Homo sapiens: one gene and its partners. The protein of the gene in region 2 purifies or fractionates together with the protein of the main gene of each other region. This does not show direct contact. Each region holds a gene or a part of one and is shown on either strand. Other genes may lie near its edges. The genes, in order: WDR73, BRAT1, HTR1E and CD40.

Region 1 (4,277 bases), on a different chromosome or scaffold from region 2:
AACAGTTCTACCGGAGTTGCTCCAGGGAATAGATACGGGACAGAAAGATGCTCTTCTATTGCTCTTGGGTGATAATTGCTCAGTTGGGAGAGGCCAAGAGTCTCTGGGTCAGGTTGTGTTTGGCCCCATACTTGTGTCCTCTGTAGGTGACCATCATGACACATGGAAGCTTGGGCTCAGTCTCCCTAAAGTTGATTGAGCCTGCTCCTTATCTGTGAAATGAGGGTGGTTGGCCTTGATGATCTTGCAGTAAGATGTCCTGATATGGGAAGTGGAGTCCCAAGCTAAGTGTGCTGGAAAGGGGAAGGGACCTGTGTGGATAAGCTCCCCATGGTCTGGACTGATTTTGTCTTTTCTGAATAGATTGCTGGTTACCAGTGGCCTTCCAGGTTGTTATCTGCAGGTGTGGCAGGTTGCAGAGGACAGTGGTGAGTGAATTTGACTTGATGGGGTTTGGGGTTCTAGGAAAGTGTGACTCATACACCCCTGTCCCCTAATCTGAGCCAGTTAAGAAGGAGACTCAGGCTGGGGACAGTCTCATGCCTGTAATTGTAGCACTTTGGGAGGCTGAGCTGGGTGGATCACTTGAATTCAGGAGTTGAAGACCACCTTGTACAACATGGTGAAACCTGTCTCTATTAAAAATACAAAAAATTAGCCGGGCATGGTGGTAGGCACCTGTAATCCCTGCTACTGGGGAGACTGAGGCAGGAGAATTGCTTGAACCTGGGAGGCGGAGGTTACAGTGAGCCGAGATCATGCCACTGCACTCCAGCCTGGGCAACAAGAGCAAAACTCCGTCTCCAAAAAAAAAAGTAGTAGTAGACTCAGAGCCAGGTGGGAATTAATCTACTTTAATGCAGACAAGGTGAATTAGCAACCATAGCATGGCATCCAAGCCCCAAATGGAGCTTCCTGTAACCTGCTCCTGGAATTGAGTTCATCCAGAGAACTACTCTCCCTAGGCAGGGGCAGTGGCAACAGCAGAGCTTAGGCTGCTCAGGTGAGCTCACCTCTTTGGCAGCATTAAGCATATATTAAGAGAAGCCTCAGATGTAGAATACAGAGAGGAGAACCTCCCTGCTAACCAAGCAGGTGGAGACAACCAAATAAAAACTAAAACTTGGCTGGGCGCAGTGGCTCATGCCTGTAATCCCAGCACTTTGGGAGGCCAAGGTAGGTGGGTCACCTGACCAGGAGTTTGAGCCCAGCCCGAGCAACATGGCGAAACCCCGTCTCTACTAAAAATACAAAAAAATTAGCTGGGCATGAGGGTGCACATCTGTAATTCCAGCTACTCAGGAGGCTGAGGCAGAAGAATTTCTTGAACCTGAGAGGCGGAGGCTGCAGTGAGCTGAGATTGTGCCACTGGACTCCAGCCTGGGCAACAGAGTGAGACTCTGTCTCAAAAAAACAAAAGAACCAAAACAAAACTTGACTCAAAGCCAAGGATGTTCCATTCAGTGTAAAAAAGATGTGGACTTTCTTGTCCACCTTACAAGACAATGACATCTGTAATGTGACCTGTACTTGCTAGGCTTTAGCAAGTCACTCGAGGTCATGGAACATGTTTTTGAAGAAATAATATCAGTTCATGAATTCTGTACCTGTTTCTTGTCGCTGAAGGGGTAAGTGACATCAGCAGCATGTTCATTCCTTTTCTTGTCTTCTACCTGTTCTCCACAAAAGTATAAAAAGCCAGAATTGCTTTTTGGGTTTTGAGATGGCATTGTCTTCCATTTGCAAAAAACAGTTTATAAGACAAATAATAAAGAAATTGAAATGTTTCTGATGGTTTCAAAAATGTAAACATAAGCCAGAGTAGTTATGTCTCAACATCATCTCTTGCCAGCCGGCAGCTCCTTTTCTTCCTTGATCTTCTAAATGTACAGGGGAAGACAGCTGGCAGCCTGTCATGTTTCAAACCTTCATTAAAGTTCTGGATTTTGGCCTCTTCGTTTTCCCCTAGATGTCATTAAAGCTGTCAGCACCATTGCTGTGCATGAGAAAGAGGAGAGTCTCTGGCCTAGGGTGGCCGTCTTCTCCACATTGGCACCCGGAGTCCTCCATGGGGCGAGGCTCCGAAGTCTGCAGGTCGTTGATCTGGAGTCCCGGAAGACCACGTACACCTCAGGTACCGTGGTACTTTGTCCCTTGCTTGCTGCTCCAGCCGGCATCACCCCCCAGCCCAACTCAGCCACTATAAAAACTGAGTTCAACTCTCTGTGCCAGGTGTTGGGGATACACAGTGAATAAGAGGTAAGCCCTGGCCTCTAAGGGCTCCTATGCTGGGGCAGGATTAGGCAGTCCCAGGGACCAGCACCCAACCAGCTGAGCAGACAATGGTGAGATGAGTGGGAAGGGAGATGTGATTTATTCTGCCTGGGACTGGTGGGAAGGGACCTGTGACCAGCCAGCCCTGCCAAATTGCCAGACCCATCTGCCTCCAGCCGCTTGTCTCCTTTGCTGTCGGTCTTCCAGATGTCAGTGACAGTGAGGAGCTGAGTAGCCTGCAGGTCCTAGATGCAGACACCTTTGCCTTCTGCTGTGCTTCAGGCCGGCTGGGGCTTGTTGACACCCGGCAGAAGTGGGCACCGTTGGAGAATCGCAGCCCTGGCCCTGGGTCTGGTGGAGAGAGATGGTGTGCTGAAGTTGGGAGCTGGGGCCAGGGCCCTGGGCCCAGCATTGCCAGCCTTGGCTCAGATGGGCGTCTTTGTCTTCTTGACCCCCGGGATCTCTGCCATCCTGTGAGCTCAGTCCAGTGCCCAGTATCCGTACCTAGCCCTGACCCAGAGCTGCTGCGAGTGACTTGGGCCCCAGGCCTGAAGAATTGCTTGGCCATCTCAGGTACTGCCGAGCAGGATTTCGTCTTGTTATCTGATCTCTTTCTTCCAGGAGACTGTTGGGTGCTCAGGAAGGAGCCTCCAGCACCATGATAAACCTGGCTCCAGGAGTTAAAGTTGCTCACAGAGAAATTCGAACTCTCCAGGTTCTTCAGTGGCAGGCCTTTTCCTACCCTGGCTACTAAACTTCCACACATTGGCAGCAGGCCTTTCCTAGCCTAGCAGGAATTCAGGTCTCAGGTTGGTGGAGGGGCCTGCAGACAGTAAGACACTGGGACAGACATCGGGCTGGGTCAGAAAGAAAAGGGGACAGTGGCTAACACGGTGAAACCCCGTCCCTACTAAAAATACAAAAAATTAGCCAGGCATGGTGGCAGGCGCCTGTAGTCCCAGCTACTTAGGAGGCTGAGGCAGAAGAATGGCGTGAACCTGGGAGGCGGAGCTTGCAGTGAGCTGAGATTGCACCACTGCACTCCAGCCTGGGCAACAGAGCGAGACTGTCTCAAAAAGAAAAAAAAAGAAAAAAAAAAAAAAAGCAGCAGGGACAGCACCTCAAGGGTACTTCTCAGCCTACTTGCCTTTTGAAATGTAGCAAGTTGGCCGGGTGCGGTGGCTCACACCTATAATCCCAGCACTTTGGGAGGTCGAGGCGGGTGGATCACAAGGTCAGGAGATCGAGACCATCGTGGCCAACATGGTGAAACCCCGTCTCTATGAAAATAAAAAAAATTAGCCGGGTGTTTTGGTGCACGCCTGTAGTCCCACCTACTTGGGAGGCTGAGGCAGGGGAATCGCTTGAACCCGGGAGTCAGAGGTTGCAGTGAGCTGAGATGACGCCACTGCACTCCAGACTGGCGACAGAGCAAGACTCTGTCTCAAAAAAAAAAAAAAAAAAAAAAGTAGCAAGCCAGCTAGGTCAGCAGGCCCCTGGTTCTGGTCTGGTGGTAGCTAGTTGCTTGCGGCACTTAATGTGGGTATCTAAAAGCCAACAGGAAGGATCCGTCGAGGCAGGTGGGGGTTGAAAAAAATCATTAAGAGAGCAAGAAAGGATGATTGGAAATGCCAGGATCCAGAAAGAACAGAAGAGCCAAGCTCAGGTAGAGGGGCTGGCTCTTCAGTACCAGGAAGATGGCAGGATGGAATGAGTGTGTGTGCAGCTAGATCGTGCAGGGACGTGAAGGTATTTCTCTCCAAAGGCTTCTGTTTCCCCCATCGAGTAGGAGACAAGGCCATCTGCTGAAAGGGACCCAGAGGTAGGGGACTGGACTCTGGGGCAACTTGAAAAGGTTTGAAGAAGTCTCTTAAGCCTCAGTTTCCTGGGTAAAATAACAGTATCTGTGTCATACAGTTCTGAGGATTAAAAGAGCTAATACTTGTCCAGAATTAGCCTTCGAGCCTCACGCATAACAGGTGCACAACGGATGCTCATGGTTA
Region 2 (4,277 bases):
ACCTGGCTAACTTTGTTATCTTTGGTAGAGATGGGGTCTCACTATGTTGCCCAGGCTGGTCTCAAACTCCTGGTCTCAAGCGATCATCCTGCCTCGGCCTCCCAAAGTGTTGGGATACAGTCGTGAGCCACTGCTCCCAGCCAAGAATTTCTACATAGCAAGGCATGAGAGCTCGAGAGCCTCCCAGAGCTGTGTCTTCCAGCTTCAAGTGCCTCAGACAGGCACCGCTGAGTCTGTCGGGATGCGTGGTGTGAGCTTCAGGGCCCTTGCCCGTCTACCACGACGGCTTCTCTTGGTGCCTCACAGGCCCTCGCCAGGTTGTGCGAAGGCACATCCAGTACCGTTAGCTTGCCGTTCACGATGCCCCCCAGTTAAGCAGCTGCAGGCTCCCTAGCAGCCCACCCAGGCACCATCTTGCTGCAGGACAGACTTTCCAAGGTGTCCTAGGGTGCTGCCGTACAGTGAATCCGGGGGCCCTTGTCTGTCAGCAGCTGGTATGAAAGTACCCTCCAGGCTGGGCACGGTGGCTCATGCCTATAATCCCAGCACTTTGGGAGGCTGAGGCAGGCGGATCACCTGAGGTCAGGAGTTCGAGACCAGGCTAACCAACATGGTAAAGCCCTGTCTCTACTAAAAATGAAAAAATTAGCTGGGTGTGGTGGTGGGCACCTGTAATGCCAGCTACTCAGGAGGCTGAGACAGGAAAATAGCTTGAGCCCAGGAGGCAGAGGTTGCAGTGAGCCGAGATGTGCCACTGCACTCCAGCCTAGGCAACAGAGTGGGACTGTCTCAAAAAAAAAAAAAAGAAGAAGAAAGTGTCCTCCAGAAGTATCTCCACCAGCCCTGGAAAACTGAAAACCCATCTCTGCTTTGCTCCACATCCCTGGAAACCTACCAGGTCCCCTCACCTCTTTTTTTTTTTTTTTTTTTTTTTTTTTGAGATGGAGTCTCGCTGTGTCACCCAGGCTGGTGTGCAGTGGTGCGATCTTGGCTCACTGCAACCTTCGCCTCCCGGGTTCAAGCAATTCTCCTGCCTCAGCCTTCTTAGTAGCTGGGATTACAGGTGCATGCCACCACACCCAGCAAATTTTTGTATTTCTAGTAGAGATGGGGTTTCACCATGTTGGTCAGGCTGGTCTCGAACTCCTGACCTCGTGATCTGCCCTCCTCGGCCTCCCAAAGTGCTGGGATTACAGGCTTCAGCCACTGCGCCTGGCCACCCTCACTTCTTTTTTTGCTTCCCAGCAGGGGGAGTTACTACCAGGGCTCTTTGGGGAGCCAGGACCCCTCGGCCGAGCAACCTGGGCCGTCCCCACCGTGCGCAGCGGCTGGATCCAGGGCCTGCGCTCCCTGGCACAGCACCCCAGCGCCCTGCGCTTCCTGGCCGACCATGGTGAGTGCGCCCACACCCCACCCCATTCCTCATCCTGCCTGTGTGATCCCAGGGAATTCACTGCACCTTGCTGAATCTGAGTGTCTGGTCTGTGCGATGTCTCAGGGTTGTTGCAAAGACTGCACTGTGACAGTACGGCTGTCCAGTGTTCTCTGGTTGGCAGGTCAGGCCCTAGGAGCCAGGACGGCTTTCTCAGCCACTTACAGATCAGCCGTGAGGACTCAGTCTTTGAAACTATTTGGGAGCCAGGCGTGGTGATGCGTGGCTATAGTCCCAGCTACTCGGGAGGCTGAAGCAAGAGGATCACTTGAGCCCAGGGGTTCGAGGCTACAGTGAGCAGTGGTTGAGCCACTGCACTCCAACTTAGGCAACAGAGCAAGACCCCGTCTCAAAAAAACAAGAAACGAGGCTGGGCACGGTGGCTCACGCCTGTAATCTCAGCACTTTGGGAGGCCGAGGCGGGTGGATCACCTGAGGTCAGGAGTTCAAGACCAGCCTGGCCAACATGGTGAAACCCTGTCTCTACGAGAATACAAAAATTAGCCGGGCATGATGGCGGGTGCCTGTAATCCCAGCTACTTGGGAGGCTGAGGTGGCAGAATGGCTTGAACCTGGGAGGTGGAAGTTGCAGTGAACTGAGATCGCACCATTGTACTCCACCCTGGGCAACAGAACAAGACTCTGTCTCAAAAAAAAAAAAAAAAAAAACAACAAGAAGGAACGAATTGGGAAGCATCACAAGCTGTGTGTGTTTAACGCTCGGGGGGAGGAGGTGCTTGTCTCCAGGGAGCTTCAGTTCCTGTTCTTTTTTGCTTTTGAGTGGAGAGGCATTTGGGGGCATCTTGGGGGGCCCTCTGCTATTTGTATCTTCCCTGAGGCCCTCTGCCTCCCCCAGCTCTATTCTGGCTCACCCCCTTTTCCCTCTCTTCCCCCATCCCCTACCCAGGTGCGGTCGACACCATCTTCTCCCTGCAGGGAGACTCCAGCCTGTTTGTGGCCTCGGCGGCCAGTCAGCTCCTGGTGCACGTCCTGGCTTTGTCCATGCGAGGTGGAGCCGAGGGGCAGCCCTGCCTGCCGGGGGGTGACTGGCCCGCGTGTGCCCAGAAGATCATGGATCACGTTGAAGAGTCCTTGTGCTCCGCGGCCACCCCCAAGGTCACTCAGGCCCTGAACGTCCTGACCACGACCTTCGGGCGCTGCCAGAGCCCCTGGACGGAAGCCCTGTGGGTGCGGCTGAGTCCCCGCGTGGCCTGTCTGCTGGAGAGAGACCCCATCCCCGCCGCACACTCGTTCGTGGACCTGCTTCTCTGTGTGGCTCGGTCAGGGCCCCGGGACGCAGCTGGGGGGCCTGGGTGGGCAACTGTTTTCCTCGGATAACGCCCAGGGATGTCCCACTGGCAGCCGGAGACTCTCTGAGGACATGGCCTGCAGTGAAGCGGCACCGGGGTGACCCTGGAACCCTCATGGGGAAAGGCCTGTCTTGGGCTGGGCGCCTCCAGTGCCGGAGCCATGGCAGTCTCAGCCAGGCCTCGAATGGGGTTTTGAGGGTGGGGGAGTAATTTTTCTCTCTGGGGTCTCCCTGCAGTTCTCCCGTGTTCAGTTCTTCCGACGGCAGCCTGTGGGAGACAGTGGCGCGGGCTCTGAGCTGCCTGGGTCCCACCCACATGGGACCCCTGGCTTTGGGGATCCTGAAGCTCGAGCACTGGTATGGTCTGGGGTGCATTTCATTCCGAGGCGGGTGCTGGGAGCTGGGGCAGGCAGGGAGGTTGAGAGCGCAGCCCTCATGGCAGGGGAGTTCCGGACACCAGGGACAGTCAGGCGGCCGTGCGGGGTGTGACTGGGTGGTGCGTGGGTTGCGCGCGGCAGCTTCTGAAGGTTCTTTAGCAACAGAATAATTGTTTCAGACCAAAGCTCTGCGAGATCCCCAGAGGTGAGAAGGATGCGGGAGCTGCTCTGCTCAGAGCAGGGTGGTCCTGCCGACGCCCTGCGCTCCGCTGCCCTCCCACCTGTCCCCCACCGCAGCTTTGGTTGGGGGTTTCGGAGCTCCCCAGCACACACACCATGCGGGTGGGGGGCCTGGGGGCGGTGCAACGGCAGAGCCTGGGGTCAGGACAGGTGGGAAGGCCGTGGATGGCCTGCCAGTGTTCCAGGTGGGCTCACAATAGGGGTGGAAGTGACCTCAGGACCTGCTGCCCACAGGGCCCAGGGGTACCATGAGGGTCCAGCTCTGAGCTCCGGGGTCTCCGAATGTTTAGGAGAGAGTAGACCGGGGGAGGATGGAGGAACAGGCCCGGCCCTGCAGGAATGCATTGTGGGGACACTGCCTCCACCTAGGCCCAGACGTGAGGGCAGGTCCCTCCCACAGAGTGGACGCTGTACACACCTGGGGGCACCCCATCCCTGTCCCCCTGAGCGGGCACTGCCCCTCTCTCTGGGTGCATGGCCAGGCCCTCCTGGAGGCCCCTCAGTATCTGCTCCTAAGGACATCAGGAGTGTCAGGCCCATCTCCTTGGTCAGGCCTGTCCTCCCCGCCACTCTGTCCCATGGCATCCCCTGGCCAGTGGCCTGCAGAGAATGTTTCTCGGGGGGTGTCCCAACCCCCTGGCTGATTTGCCCCAGGCTTGCTGGGGACATTAGGAGCACAGCCAACTTGTCTCGCAGCCAGGGTCGCGGCACTCACCTCGCGTTTGTCTCCAGTCCACAGGCACTGAGGACCCAGGCCTTCCAGGTCCTTCTCCAGCCCCTGGCCTGTGTCCTGAAGGCCACGGTTCAGGCCCCCGGACCCCCAGGTGTGCTGCTTAGAAAGGGCTGGGAGGGCAGAACCTGGGTCCCTGCGGCTGGGGGAAGGGAGATGGATGAGAGTAGCTGGCTCGCCACCCCCGCC
Region 3 (4,277 bases), on a different chromosome or scaffold from region 2:
GGATTAAATGTGTGTATTCATTATTGCTAAATAATAAATTACCCCAAAACCTAATGGCTTAAAGCAACAGATTTTTATTATCTCTATGATCATAGTTCCATGGGTTGGGAATCTGGGTATGGCTTAGCTAGGTCCTCTGGCTCAGGTCTGTCACTCACAGGCTGCAAAGTTTCAGCCGAGACTGCAGACATCTCAAGGCTCAACTGGGGAAAGGTAACGCTTCCAAGCTCGCTCACGTGGCTGTTGACAAGCCTCAGGTCCCAGCTGGCTGCTGGCTGGAGACGTTCTTTTGCTACCACATGGACCTCTCTATAGGGCTACTAACAAAACAGAGTGCTTCATGCAGATGTTGCAGCTTGCTGTCCTTGGAGCAAGGGCTAAGATTGAAAGATAGCAAAATAGAAGCCAAGGTCTTTTTGTAACCTGATATCAGAAGTGATATCCCATGGCTTCTGCTGTGTTCCTCATTAGAGACAAGTCACTAGTTTCAGCCTAATTCAAGGGGAAGGGATTACACAGTGGGAGGAATACCTACAGGAACCAAATCATTGAGAGCCACCTGAGATACTGCCTGCCACAATATAAGACATCAGAAGCTGTTTGATAAAGACTCAATTCAGTATCACCTCGTGGTTTTATCTCATAGTAATGTTCTCAGACTGAAATTAGATAATCTGTCAAAGAATTTGTAAAATATAAAGCTCTATACAATATCAAGATTTTATTAGTTTTATTAATGCTGAGAATCCAGTTCCACTTTATAGATAGTGATATAAGAACAGCAAATCAATGATTAAGAGATGTGAATTTTACACCTTGCTGTGTGTGTGACCTTGGAAAAGCCATTTATTTGTTTCATACCTTAGTTCTCTCATGAAAGTGATGATAATAACAGACTTACCAGGATAAAATAGATAATAGACAGCCATGCAGCACATTGACAATATTTTGGTCACCCACAAACCACATATATGACAGTGGTCCCACAAATTATAATGGAGCTGAAAAATTCCTACAGCCTAGTGACATCATCGCTATTGCAATGTTGTTGTAGCACAATGTATCGCTCATGTGCTTGTGATGAGGCTGGTGTAAGCAAACCTGTGCTGCCAGTTGTATAAAAGTATAGCACATACAATTATGTATAGTATATAATACTTGATAATAAACAACTGTTACTGGTTTATACATTTACTGTACTATACTTTTTATCATTATTTTGGGGTGTGTTCCTACTTAATTAAAAAAAAAAAGTGAAAAGAAGTTTAACTGTAAAACAGCCTCAGGCAGGTCCTTCAGAAGGTATCCCAGAAAACAGCATTGTTATTACAGGAGATGACAGCTCCATGCATGTTATTGCCCCGAAGGACCTTCCAACGGACAGGATGTGTAAATAGATACAGTGATACTGATAATCCTGAGCCTGTGTAGGCTAAGGCTAATGTGTCTGTATCTTAGTTTTGTTTGTTTGTTTGTTTGTTTGTTTGAGACAGAGTCTCAGTCGCCCAGGCTGGAGTGCAGCAGCACAATCTCACCTCATTGCAACCTCCGCCTCCCAGGTTCAAGCAATTCTCCCACCTCAGCTTCCTAGTAGCTGGGATTACAGGCACTCACCACCATGCCCAGCTAATTTTTTGAATTTTTAGTAGAGACGGGATTTCACCATATTGGCCATGCTGGTCTTGAACCCCCGACCTCAAATGATTCGCCCGCCTCAGCCTCCCAAAGTGCTGGGATTACAGGCGTGAGTATCTTAGTTTTTAACAAAAAAGTGTGAAAAGGAAAGAAAAAATTTAAAGTTTTAAAAATAGAAAAAAGTTTATAAAATAATGTTATAAATAATGAGAATATTTTTGTATAGCTATACAATGTGTTTTAAGCTAAGTGCTATTACAAAAAGAGTCAAAAAGGTTTTTTTAATTTAAAAGTTTGGGGGTTTTTTGTTTTGTTTTTGTTTTTGTTTTTGTTTTTTTGAGATGACGTTTCTTTCTTGCCTCCCAGACTGGAGTGCAGTGGCGTGGTGATCCCAGTTCACTGCAACGTCCGCCTCCCCAGTTTCAAGCAATTCTCCTGCCTCAGCCTCCCAAGTAACTGGGATTACAGGCATGTGCCACCATGCCCAGCTAAATTTTGTATTTTTAGTAGAGATGGGGATTCACTATGTTGGCCAGGCTGGTCTCAATCTCCTGACCTCAGGTGGTTTACCTGCCTCGGCCTCCCAAAGTGCTGGTATTACAGGCATGAGCCACCACACCCGGCCTAATTAAAAAGTTTATAAAGTAAAAAAGTTATAGTAAGATAAGGTTAACTTATTATTGGAGAGAGAAAAAATGGTTTTTACAAATTAGGTATAGCTTAAGTGTACAGTGTTTTTAAAGTCTACAGTAGTGTACAGTAATGTACTAGGCCTTCATATTCGCTCAACACTGACTCACTGACTCACCCAGAGCAGCTTCTAATCCTGCAAACTCCATTCATGATAAGTTCCCTACACAAGTATCCCATTTTTTATCTTTATACCATATTTTCACTGTACCCTTTCTACGTTTAGATACACAAATACTATTGTGTTACATTTGCCTACAGTATTCAATACAGTAACATGCTGTCTGGCTTTGTAGCCTAGAAGCAATAGGCTATGCCACATAGCCTAGGTGTGCAGTAGGCTACACCATCTAGGTTTGTGGAAGTACACATCTTGATGTTCACACAATGATGAAATGGCCTAACAATGCATTTCTCAGAATGTATGATGCATGGCTATATATAAAATTATGCTGAAATCTAAAAAAATGAGATGATGGTCATAATGACAATGATGAAGATGACTATATGTTTCAGCTTCTACTCCATGGTCCTTTGAGGACAACTGAAGTAACTAGATATGATTTTTGTCAGTTGTGTTTTAAGTGTATGTATCAAATCCAGCTACCCCAAGTTTTACAATAACTTTATATGGTTTAATCTTATCTTGCTGAACACATTAGATATGCTGCCCTGAAAAGTGGCTTGCAAACAGAATTTTTAGAAACTGAACCATAATTAAAATGCACAGAGGCCGGGCACGGTGGCTCACACCTGTAATCCCAGTACTTTGGGAAGCCAAGACAGGCGGATCACCTGAGGTCAGGAGTTTGAGACCAGCCTGACCAACATGAAGAAACCCTGTCTCTACTAAAAATACAAAATTAGCCATGCGTGGTGGCACATGGCTGTAATCCCAGCTACTCAGGAAGCTGAGGCAGGAGAATCGCTTGAACCCAGGAGGCGGAGGTTGTGGTGAGCCGAGATCGCGCCATTGCACTCCAGCCTGGGCAACAAGAGCGAAACTCTGTCTCAAAAAAAAAATGCACAGAGAAGGTTTCCATGTATCTAGTGGAATTGTACAATGCTTATGTGATCTTGTGATATCATTAATATTTTGTAATATAAATAATTATCCTCATTATTTTAATTTTCTGGCATTGTAGCAACACCTGTATAAATATTTATAGTTACTTAAGAACTCACAAAACAACCTTTTGAAGTAGGCAAATAAAACCAACTCTTGGTTATCTCAAAGAGTTCTTTTTGTTTGATTCTTGTGTTATCTACATTTCTTCTCTCACTGTAAATTGGCATAAATTTGGCAGATACAAAACAAGTAAAGTTCAAACTCCTCCACTCAACCACTTTAAGGGATTTTTTTTCCTGCTTATAAGTATATCACATGTTCATTGTAGAAAATTTGGAAATGCAGAAAAGTATAAAAAATGTAGTTAAAGTTACTCTTATTGCCACCACCAAGAGGCAGCCACTATTGATACTTTGATGAATTTCTGCCTTAGTGCTTTCCCTCTCTATAGGGAGAAAAGAGTGGTTTCTTTTTCAATGAAATCAGGAGTATGTTATATACTTTTCTTGTGTTCTGCTTTCTCTAATTAACATTATTTTTTAAATGATATTTCCATTTATTGATTCAACAACATAAATTAGTAAATATTGACTATATCCAAAGTGGAATTTGGATGAACTGTAAGAAATATAGTTAATAATTGAATTCAGATTTTTTAAATCAATTCCAACAATTGTGAAGTAGTTTCTTTTCCTTTTTTTAAAAAATTTTACTTTAAGTTTGGTGATACATACGCAGAATGTGCAGGTTTGTTACATAGGTGTACATGTGCCACGGTGGTTCACTGCACCTATCAACCTGTCATCTAGGTTTTAAGCCCTGCATGCGTTAGGTATTTGTCCTAATGCTCACCCTCCCTTTACCCTCCACCCCGCGACAGGCC
Region 4 (4,277 bases), on a different chromosome or scaffold from region 2:
GCACTTTGGGAGGCCAAGGCAGACGGATCACGAGGTCAGGAGATCAAGACCATCCTGGCTAACACGGTGAAACGCCGTCTCTACTAAAAATACAAAAAAATTAGCCGGGTGTGGTGGCGGGCGCCTATAGTCCCAGCTACTCAGGAGGCTGAGGCAGGAGAATGGCGTGAACCTGGGAGGCAGAGCTTGCAGTGAGCCGAGATTGCGCCACTGCACTCCAGCCTGGGCGACAGAGTGAGACTCTGTCTCAAAAAAAAAAAAAAAAAAAAAAAAAAAAAAAAACTATACCAGTGGTGCCTCCAGTTATCAGTCAACATTTATCAGTAAAAATTTAAGCACCTACCATGCGTCAGGTACTGTTCCAGGTATAGGGGATGTATCAATGGAAGAAAAAAAAAAGGCCAAGTTTCTACATTTAAGGAATTTTCAATCTATTAGGGAAAGGCAGACAGTTAACAAATAAAATGTATACTCCTATTTGTGCAAAAGTAAAAGGAGGGAAATTTTGTGTGTGTTTGTGTGTGTGTGTGTGTGTGTTGGTTTGTTTATATGTAGAATCTCTGGAAGGATATGCAAGGAACAATGGCTCCCTCCAGAAAGAACTGGGAGCCTAAGGGGCAGGGATGGGAGAAAGACATCACTTTGGCTCTTTTGTGCCTTCTGTCCCATGTGCCTATCTTGCCCATTTTTAAAAATCAAATGCAAAAAGTTAATGGGGCAGGTGTTTGTTTTTTGAGACAGAATGTCGCTCTGTTGCCCAGGCTGGAGTGCAGTGGCGCTATCTTGGCTCACTGCAAACTCCACCTTCCGGGTTCAAGTGATTCTCCTGCCTCAGCCTCCCGAGGAGCTGGGATTACAGGCGCCCACCACCACACCCAGCTAATTTTTTGGTATTTTTAGTAGAGATGGGTTTTTACCATGTTGTGCTGGCTGGTCTTGAACTCCTGACCTCAAGTGATCCACCCGCCTTGGCATCCAAAGTGCTGAGATTACAGGCAAGAGCCACCGCGCCTGGCCTGGGGCCCATGTTTAAGGTATTCCAGGCAGATGAGTTTGATGGAAGAGAATGAACAGTGTGTTCAGAGGATTGCAAGTAGCATGAAGCTATGCGATGCAGGAAAGAGAGCAGGAAATGCAACAGGAAGGTTGGGTGCCATGCTAAGGAGTCTTAGTTCCAACAGAGAGACAGGAAGCATCTCAAATAGGAGAGTGTCATGATTTGAAAGAAACTGTCGAACGCTCATGTTGGCAAGAGGATGGAGACAGAACCAGCAGGAGGGGAGAGACAGAGGCAGGGAGGCCAGGAGGCAGAAAAGGCATCACCCAGACCACAGTGATGAGGCCCAAACTAAAGTGACAACAGTGGAGACAGTAAGTTCCCAAAACACGTAGACAGCCAGTGGCAGGACCTGGTGTGGGTTTGGAGTTGGAGGTAAGAGAGGGAGGCCCTCAGGGTGAGCACCCAGAGCCCAGAAAGCCCTAGAAAGCCAGGTAAGGTGAAAGCAAGACGAGGAAAACTGAGGAGAAGCAGGAGGGGCAGAAGGAAAGCTAAAATAAGTGTCCCAATACCCCCAAGATAGGAGGCTCTCATGAAGCGAGAGATCAACAGTGTCTATTACCTCAAAGAGACAGCAGGCAAAAAAAATGTGGAAATGTGCCTGTCTGGTTGGCCATGAGGCCACTCTGCAGATGCTTCACAAGTACATGAGTGTGTGTGGACCTCTGGGAGCAGGGACAGGACAGGTGGCTGGAGAGAATGGAGGCAGCTCCATGCCACTCTTAGAGCAGGAAACACAAGGGATGAGTGCTTATACCTTGTCCAAGGGTGACATTTTTCGAAAGCAGATGACACATTGGAGAAGAAGCCGACTGGGCAGGGCTCGCAGATGGTATCAGAAACCCCTGTAGCTGGGAGTGGGTGGGGAGGGGGACATTAACCATCACAGTGGACCACCTGTCCGGCTCACAAGGCAGCCAGTGGCCAGGCAGGACGGGAAGAGCTCCTGCCTTGAGCACTCTTCCCCCGATGTGGTACTGCCCCCGACAGCTGCAGTCCCCAGGAGGACTTCTCCCATTGCCCTTCAAAGGCAGATCCCCATGGCAGAAGGCAGAATGAACAAGGTCCCGTCTGCAGCTCACTCCAGTGGGGATACCGACATAGGTTGGAGCCTCTGCTTCCTCTGCCTCTGGGGCTAAGTGCCCACTGCCCAGCCCCTCACCTTGGGCCCTAAGCTCCTCTGTCCCCCTCCAAAACTGATTCCCAGATGAGCCACTTACCAATCTGCTTGACCCCAAAGCCGGGCGAGCATGAGCGGTGCAGGACACAGCTCTCACAGGCCTCACTCGTACAGTGCCAGCCTTCTTCACAGGTGCAGATGGTGTCTGTTTCTGAGGTGCCCTTCTGCTGGACCCGAAGCCCTAGGTCTGAGAAGAGAAGGGCAGGAAGGATGGGAACCCCCTGCTGGGCCATGCTCTGAGCCTCACTCCCCACATTGCCTGCTCTTTCTTCCTCAGACCCTCTTCCAAGTAGAGATGGCAATCAAATCATTTAATGATCAGTACAGCCCGGACTCCAACCAATCAGAGCAGACCCTGGCTACATAAAATTAGAATGGCTGCATTGTCGGGAATATCAGCCCGGTTCCCAAGCGTCCCTTTCCCAACAGCGCACGCACTGGGGTCGCAGTATTTGTGCTGGTGGCAGTGTGTCTCTCTGTTCCAGGTGTCTAGGAATTCGCTTTCACCGCAAGGAAGGCATTCCGTTTCAGTGAACTCTGTGCAGTCACTCACCAGTTTCTGTCCTGGAAAACATCAGGAAATGAGGGAGGGCTCTGGCCAACTCCATGAGTCAGACACTAACCACACAATGATCAGGCCAGGCTTTAGGGTAGGGGATTCAAAGATGAAAGTCTTGGATCCTTCATAATCAGGCGAGGAAGATGGAGAAGCTGGGATCCCTAGTTCAGGGTAGACAGAGTTTTACCTGGTAGAGAGGGAACCAGAACATTCTGACAGTGAAGCAGGGCTGGGAAATGGGTCGTTTCAGATTTGAGTTTACAGTTAACATATGGGGTCTGCGTCTGCCACCAAAGCAAAGGGGGACTCCATGATGGGGCTAGAGGGTTGGCATCTCACCTGGCTGGCACAAAGAACAGCACTGACTGTTTATTAGGTACTGTTTTTCTCTGCATGCAGTGGGTGGTTCTGGATGGACCTAAAAACAGAATTGTGCAATTTGAAGGGATCTTGAAATCTCCGTTGCAACTTCTTCAGCAGAAAGGTAAAAGTCATCCAGGACAGAGGCTGCAAACTGAAGTGCAAGTCAAAACAGAAAGTGGAACCTGCATGATATTTGGCATGTTTGTTTTCAAGTAAATTGTCAACTGAGCTGATTATAATCGCACCCAGAGAATCATTCTGGTATTTTTACAAAGCAATGGTACTGTAAACTCACAATATTCTCTGAACAGAACAGAATTCCTTGGGGCTTGATGCCTGAGTCATTCCTCTTCCCAAAGATCCCATAGGATATGGGGACTCCAGCAGCTCCCCTGGAGTCCTGAAGCTGGCTGACTTCAGCTGGTCCCAGTGCTGTTTGGGGCTATGTTTAGCACTTGGCCTCTTCCTCCTATTCTTCTGCTTCCCTTCCTGCTCCTTTCCAAAGCCCATCATGTTTTCTTCCTCCAACTCCTCATCATCTGTTCATCCAGCCCTTCCCTCATAAAATGCTAGAATGTAAAGCTGGAAGGGTAAACTCACACTTTCATTTTACAGATAGTTGAGACTGAGCACCAAAGAGGAGGGTCACTTGCCCAGAGTCTCACAGTGACAGAGTCCAAATGAGAACTCAGGTCTCAATGCTCCTCTCTCCATCAACTTGTGTTTCATCTTCACCATTTTACTACATCCAGGTACCACCCATGCTATTAATTACTTATTGTTAATTTCAATACTTTTATTTTATTTTTTGAGACAGAGTCTCGCTCCATCGCCCAGGCTGGAGTGCAGTGGCATCATCTCAGCCCACTGCAACCTCTATCTCCTGGGTTCAAGCAATTCTCCAGCCTCAGCCTCCTGAGTAGCTGGGATTACAGGTGTGTACCACTATGCCCGGCTAATTTATGTATTTTTAGTAGAGACAGGGTTTCACCATGTTGGCCAGGCTGATCTAAAACTCCTGACCTCAAGTGATCTGACTGCCTTGGCCTCCCAAAGTGCTGGGATTACAGGCACAAGCCACCGTGCCTGGCCGGTACATTTACTTTAAATGTAAACCT

What was found.
Region 1: the proteins of BRAT1 (region 2) and WDR73 purify together in Homo sapiens (affinity purification with mass spectrometry, with the first as the bait; one large-scale study listed by BioGRID). This does not show direct contact.
Region 3: the proteins of BRAT1 (region 2) and HTR1E purify together in Homo sapiens (co-immunoprecipitation; one large-scale study listed by IntAct). This does not show direct contact.
Region 4: the proteins of BRAT1 (region 2) and CD40 purify together in Homo sapiens (co-immunoprecipitation; one large-scale study listed by IntAct). This does not show direct contact.

Annotation. Positions count from the first base shown.
Region 1 is NC_000015.10:84,644,041-84,648,317, reverse strand, and holds part of WDR73 (integrator complex assembly factor WDR73), read left to right. Parts: intron 1-363; coding exon 364-428; intron 429-1,969; coding exon 1,970-2,134; intron 2,135-2,232; exon of another isoform or gene 2,233-2,345; intron 2,346-2,481; coding exon 2,482-2,847; intron 2,848-4,277. UniProt on the Homo sapiens protein: Component of a multiprotein complex required for the assembly of the RNA endonuclease module of the integrator complex. Associates with INTS9 and INTS11 in the cytoplasm, stabilizing the INTS9-INTS11 heterodimer and blocking the active site of INTS11.
Region 2 is NC_000007.14:2,542,025-2,546,301, reverse strand, and holds part of BRAT1 (integrator complex assembly factor BRAT1), read left to right. Parts: intron 1-1,245; coding exon 1,246-1,393; intron 1,394-2,339; coding exon 2,340-2,712; intron 2,713-2,978; coding exon 2,979-3,098; intron 3,099-4,090; coding exon 4,091-4,182; intron 4,183-4,277. UniProt on the Homo sapiens protein: Component of a multiprotein complex required for the assembly of the RNA endonuclease module of the integrator complex.
Region 3 is NC_000006.12:86,943,779-86,948,055, forward strand, and holds part of HTR1E (5-hydroxytryptamine receptor 1E), read left to right. Parts: intron 1-4,277. UniProt on the Homo sapiens protein: G-protein coupled receptor for 5-hydroxytryptamine (serotonin). Also functions as a receptor for various alkaloids and psychoactive substances.
Region 4 is NC_000020.11:46,120,757-46,125,033, reverse strand, and holds part of CD40 (tumor necrosis factor receptor superfamily member 5 isoform 1 precursor), read right to left. Parts: intron 3,215-4,277; coding exon 3,136-3,214; intron 2,802-3,135; coding exon 2,676-2,801; intron 2,425-2,675; coding exon 2,278-2,424; intron 1,909-2,277; coding exon 1,815-1,908; intron 1-1,814.